Regions from separate parts of the Homo sapiens genome. Here region 2 is linked to region 1. Evidence: fine-mapped expression QTL. A gene starts in region 1. The other region holds a variant in brackets. All regions are shown on one strand. Distances are from middle to middle. Region 1 holds the start of WASHC5 (WASH complex subunit 5). Region 2 overlaps NSMCE2 (NSE2 SUMO ligase component of SMC5/6 complex).

The links. PIP is the estimated chance that this variant, and not a neighbour inherited with it, causes the effect. A credible set is the group of variants that fine-mapping cannot tell apart.
Region 2: its variant is the best candidate, but not a certain one, in a credible set for the expression of WASHC5 in whole blood (TOPMed, PIP 0.65).

The regions. Positions count from the first base shown.
Region 1 is chr8:125,090,197-125,093,110 of GRCh38, forward strand. WASHC5 (WASH complex subunit 5) reads right to left here and starts at 1,596. Exons shown (of 29, transcript NM_014846.4): 1 at 1,419-1,596. NSMCE2 (NSE2 SUMO ligase component of SMC5/6 complex) reads left to right here and starts at 1,664. Exons shown (of 8, transcript NM_173685.4): 1 at 1,664-1,762. RefSeq lists a silencer at 1,316-1,485 and an enhancer at 1,536-1,755.
Region 2 is chr8:125,169,089-125,172,002 of GRCh38, forward strand. All of the region lies in intron 4 of NSMCE2 (NSE2 SUMO ligase component of SMC5/6 complex), which reads left to right. Among named protein-coding and RNA genes, the nearest start is that of NSMCE2, 79 kb to the left of the region's middle. The variant T/C (reference allele first, on the strand shown) is at 1,650.

The sequences.
Region 1 (2,914 bases):
ATAATTTGTACAAATATAATTTGGCTAGAGTATTTGGTAAATAGCCCCCTCGTTGGCTGAAGGACTAGTCCTGAAGAACAGAATCTAAGAACCATCATTAAAAATGCCTAATCAAGTTGCAGCTAAGAGGTAGGTGGATGGCTTTACAAAGTGTTAAGACTCAGCTAAGTCTTAAAAAACCACTTTAGAATTAGGTCCAAATAAACACTGTAGAAGAAGCTATGTTAAATTATCCTTTCAGAGGTTCTCTTGGTGCTAGGGATCAAGAACACTTGAAGATCAGTTTTCTCAATACAGGCTATATTATTATTGGCATGAAATCCAGAGATCCCACTATATTTTCTTATTTTCTTTTACAAGTGCCGGTAACTTCATTTTTAATAATTTGGCGTGGAACTGTGATTTTCAGTTTGGGAAGTAATCCTAATCAAAAGACATGCTTTCAAGAATAAGGCATGACATCCTTACACCAATTACCCTGAGTACAGAATAATATTTCTTAAGGAAATCGAATTGTCGTGGACAAACAGTTTACCCTCTTCAGAGGACAAAAGAAGGCAGGTCTATTTTTAGCCTTTCGCAAAACCTCAGTTCCATAAAGGAAGCACTGGTCTCCACAAATCCATTATCACAAACAAAATATAACGGTTGCTGATCAAGATAAATGCAAGCTGCATATATTTTCCAGAAAAGTTCTGAAATGAGGCTGAACCTGAAATCCTGGGAAAGGCAGGTGAAGGACAATTAGAGAAGGTGTCCCTTGTAGTGCACAAAGACAGTAAAACTTCGCCCTCACTACGCCTCACCTATGTTTGAGGGAGCTCCATGCGCTTGCAATCAGGAGACCCAGTTTTATGGCTCTGTGACTTTTTTTCTTTCTCCTGTCCGATCATAATCCTGATTCCGATCCCAGGAATCAGGGCCCTGGGAACTTTTTTTTTTTCCCCCAAATGCAAAGGATTTTGACATCAGTATGTCACAGGTGAAGGCATTAAGGCGCGGCGAGCAGCAATGACTTGCCCAAACTCACAGCCCATGGCATAACTAGAATGCAAATCCACGTCTGTCAGCCTGTAAAAGTCCTCACTACTAGCCTTTCAGTTTTCTCAAAAGCAAAGAGAAATAACGACGACATCCATACAGCAGTGTTCCCGGAAACTTGGAAGGATGAGATTCGGACCAAGCAGCTGAACGGTGCTTCCTAAAGCGAGGAAGGGGTGTGCAAAATGATTTCCCCCTAAGCGGAGACGAAGAGCTGGATTACAGCCCCCGCCCCAGAAAGCCCCTAAGCCCTCCATCCCGAGTCCCCCATCCAGGCTGCACGCGACTCTGCAGACCTCCCCGTGGCCAGCGCGGCCCAGCGGGGAGGGGAAGGGGGCCATGCAAAAATGGGGCGCGCTCACTCCATCCCCACTCACCTGTCAGCCGGGCCGCGCCACGGCGCACGCGCAGGGCCGGAGGTCGCGCGCGGAGCCGGCACCCAGTTTCCACCCCTCCCTCAAGGCGGCGGTCCTCTTCTATCCGCAGTCCCGGACCTGGAGCGGGTCAGACCCCGACTTCCGCCCCTGACTCCCCAGGCGGTCACATGACCGAAGCGGCTGGGAGCAGGGAGGGGCATCATGTGACCACTCGCCGGCGACGGCTGATGACGCAAGAGCCCGCTCTCACTTTTCAGCGGCAGGCGAAGGGGGCTGAGGAAAGGAGGTGGGTCTAGGCAGGGGAAATTGGGGTGCCACCAGACGGAGACAGCTTGGACTACCAGGTAGGGAAGAAGCGGGGGACGGCAATGGGGAGGGTGGCAGGAGTTTCGCCACCCTCAGGGACACTCCACGGGGACTCCGAGCCGGGGGTCCGTCTACCCGGATTATGGTTGTGGAACTTTTCACGCCACGGTAGTGAGTCTGGGACAGTTTACCCTCCTGTCCGAGACGCCATCTCTCCATCCTTTCGCCTCAAGTGTGTAGGGGCAAGATTACGAATTTTTGATCCAAATAGATTTTGTTTGAACTGACTTTAAAAGTAAGGCCACGGGAAGGTCGTTTGAATAAACTCTCTGGACCTCAATTTCCTCTTCAGTTATGTAGATTGCAGTGAGAATTAGCGATAAGGAGAATAAAGTGCCGGGACACCAGTTTATGGCATTCTGTAGGTGACCGAGAAATGATGATGTCTGTTGTTATTTTTGTAACTGGCCAAATCTTTATTGGTCCCCTATTTTGTGTGAGGAATTGCTTTATATGCAATAGAATATGTCAGGGTTCTAGTTTAAGGAGGTGTCAGTTTAAAGAAGCTGCAGACATGTGAGCAAATAGTTGTGATGAGTTTCATAATAGGAGTGTGTTGTGTACATGTGCATGTGATAGGGATAATGGTAGCATGAGGGAGGGAAAAGCAATTGTATGAGAAGGATTCAGAGAGAAGGGATTATCCTTGCATGTTGAAAAAGGAGAGGCAGCTCTGGCTGACTTGTACAAGGCTCCCATGGATTTAAAGGAAGTCAACATATTGTCTATAAATAACATGCAGAGAAAAAACTCAGGAAATGCACAACTTGTTCTAAACTTTCTTGGAGATCATAGGTACCGGGAAGAAAAAGATCAGTGTTATTACCTGGGGAGGGATCCAAGAGAGATTGATTTAAACCAGTTATTCTCAACTGATGCACTATTGACATTTTAGGCCAGATAATTTTTTGCTGTGGGGTCAGGGTGAGGGCTGTCCTGTGTTTTGTAGGATGCTTAAGAGCATCCCTGGCCTCTGCCCGCTAGATGCCAACCACAAAGTCTACAGATACTGCTAAATGTCCCCTTGCGAGAGGGGTAAAATCCTTCTTGGTTGAGAACCACTTAAACCAAGCCATGAAAGATGGTATCTTAGTCAATGTGGGCTTCTGTAACGGAAATGCCATAAACTA
Region 2 (2,914 bases), 79 kb after region 1:
CTTCCTTCCTGAATTTTTATTTTCCCCTGACTTTCATGACAACACATCTGTTTTTTCTTCTAGCTTCTGGTCACTCCTCCATAATCTCTTTGGTAGATCCTACTTCATCTCTTCACTCAGTAAAGCCTGCTATTCCTACCCGTTCTTCGATTTTCTTTCTCACACTGCATACTCTTCCTGAGAAATAGCATCTATGCTCATAACTTGAATTGCTGTCTTTATGCTGCTGAGTCCCAGATCTTTATTTCCATTCTAGATTTCTCATCTTAGAACCACACACATAAACTTAATGATAGATTTGACATTCTCTACTTAAATGTGCTATAGGCTCCTTAAATTCAGTGTCCCACAGTGACGTTTTCCCCATGATTTTCTCCTGGGATTCTGTAACTTCGTAAATGGTAATATCATCCACCCAGTTTCTCCTATCAGAAATCTGTTGTCGTCCTTACTTCCCCTACTTAGCTCTTCACATTTTACATTCCATCTCCAAATTTTCCTGCTTCTCAAATTAATTCACCTACCTCCATTCCCATGTTCACAGTCTTCAGTCCCCTTGGGCACACTGGCTGCACACAGTTGCTGTCTTCTCCTATATTTCTTATCTGGTAGCCCACGAGATCTTTCTAAAGTGAACATTTGATTTTTTTTTTCCTGCCTTTTCCATAACTTTACCTTCTTCAGTTTTTCCTTGTTACTTTCAGCTTTAAGCTCAAATTTCTTTACATGGTGTACACCCCTCCTTACCTCTCTAGTCTCATTTTGTACTATTCTTTTACACTAGCTCTTTGAATGTTCTCTTGCCTCTGGCCTTAGCACACACTATCTACTGGGAGTGCTTTTTTTTTTTCATTTCCAAATAGCTGACTCTTTCTTACTCTCCACAGACTGAGGCTAGCTCCTTTCTTACAGCCTGCTCTGATATCATCCCATCTCTGTTTGCCAAGTGGATTACTCTCATGTGCTCTCATAACATCATGAAGTTAATCATTTTTCATAGCATTTGTAGCTGTAACCTAGTCCTCTCTCCAAAACCACATCTCAGACATATAACTGTCTTCTCTTCATTTTCACTTTATTTCATTCTCATAGGCATTGCACATTTAACCTTCCAAAACTAAACTCTTGTTTTTCTCCAAAACCAGCTGTTCCTCCTGACTTCCCCATCTTAGAAAATGGCAGTATTACTATTCCATTTTTAATTAGACCAAAATCCAGAGTTGTCCTTTGTTCCTTAATTTTTTCACAGCCCATATCCAGTCCATCAATAAACCTTACTCTTTATTTCTTTTTTTTTTTTTTTTTTTTTTTTTTTTTTTTTTTTTTTAAGACAGAGTCTCGCTCTCTTGGCCTCTTGGGCAGGCTGGAGTGCAAATGGCGCTGTCTCGGCTCACTGCAAACTCCACCTCCCGGGTTCAGGAGATTCTCCTGCCTCAGCCTCCTGAGTAGCTGGGATTTACAGGCATGTGCCACCATGCCCGACTAACTTTTGTGTTTTTAGAAGTGATGGGGTTTCACCATGTTGGCCAGGCTGGTCTCGAACTCCTGACCTCAGGTGATCCACCCGGCTTGGCCTCCCAAAGTGCTGGGATTACAGGCGTGAGCCACCGCACCCAGCCAACCTTATTATTTCTACCTACAACATGTAT[T/C]TAGAGTCTAACCACCTCTCACTGTTTCTCCTACTGTCACCCTAATCCATGCCATCATCACTTTTTACCTGGATGCCTGCAGCAGCCTACTGACTGCTCTCCTGCTTCTGCTCCTCCTCCCCTAAAGTGGTTCTCATCCTCACAGCCAGAATGACCCTTTTAAAAAGAAAATCAGAGGTTTTTACTACTCTGTGCAAAACCTTCACACATCTCTCTCAGAATAAAAGCTAAAGCCCTCCGTCATCTGTCCCACTTCGCACCCTGCTTTGATTAATACTACTGACCTCATCCCCTGTTACTTCCCAAACCCTTTTTACTGTGACTCCAACTATATGGCTCACCCCCTCATTTTCTTTAGGTCTCTGGTTCAGATGTCGTCTTTTCATTGAAGCCTGCCTTGACCGTCCATCACAGAAGAGCTCACTCATTTCCACTCTGCTCAATTGTTCTCCATGGCACTTATACCATTTAGCTAGTTACGTATTTTCTTATTATTCTTCTACTCAAGTAGAATACAAACTCCACAAGGGCAGGAACTGGTTCTCTTGACTGCTGTGTTCCCAGCTCCTGGAGCAGTGTGTGGCCTCTAATAGGCTCTAAGTAAATAGTTGAAGTCTAGGGTTAGTAGTATGTCATGGACTTAGCGATATAACAGACCTGCTAATGCAGTCAGTCCTAGCTCCAATACTGAGCTCTTCAACCCCTTGTAATTAGACCGCTCCTCAGCTTCAGTTCCTAATCAATAGCATAGGATGTATTCATTCTTACCTATAATGTTATTTGTTTGGGGGAGGGTTAAATAAAATAAACAGTATGAAGTGCTTACCTCAGTACCTTGCCAATAATAAATAGTTGAGAGCAGCTGCTGCTACTAATACTGCTGCTAATTCTGATCAGATTACAGCATTTAAATTGCTTCTGACTTGTTCATCTCTTCTACCAGATTTTGTCTGGCTACATCTTAAACTTGCTATAATAATAATAATAACAACAATGTGACCATAAGAATACCAGTAATAATAATAGCAGCTGTGATCATTTGAGTGCTTACCAAGTACTAGAGAGTATTCTCTAAGTCAGCACTTCCCAGTGCCTCTTCCTGCAGTGATGGAAACGTTCTATATCTGCTCTGTCCAGAGTGGTGTGGTAGTCACTAGCCACATGCAGAGAGAGCTCTTGAGCACTTGGCAGTGTGACCGAGGAACTCAGTGTTTAATTTTATTTAATTTTAATTAATTTAGATTTTAATGACCATGTTGGCTACT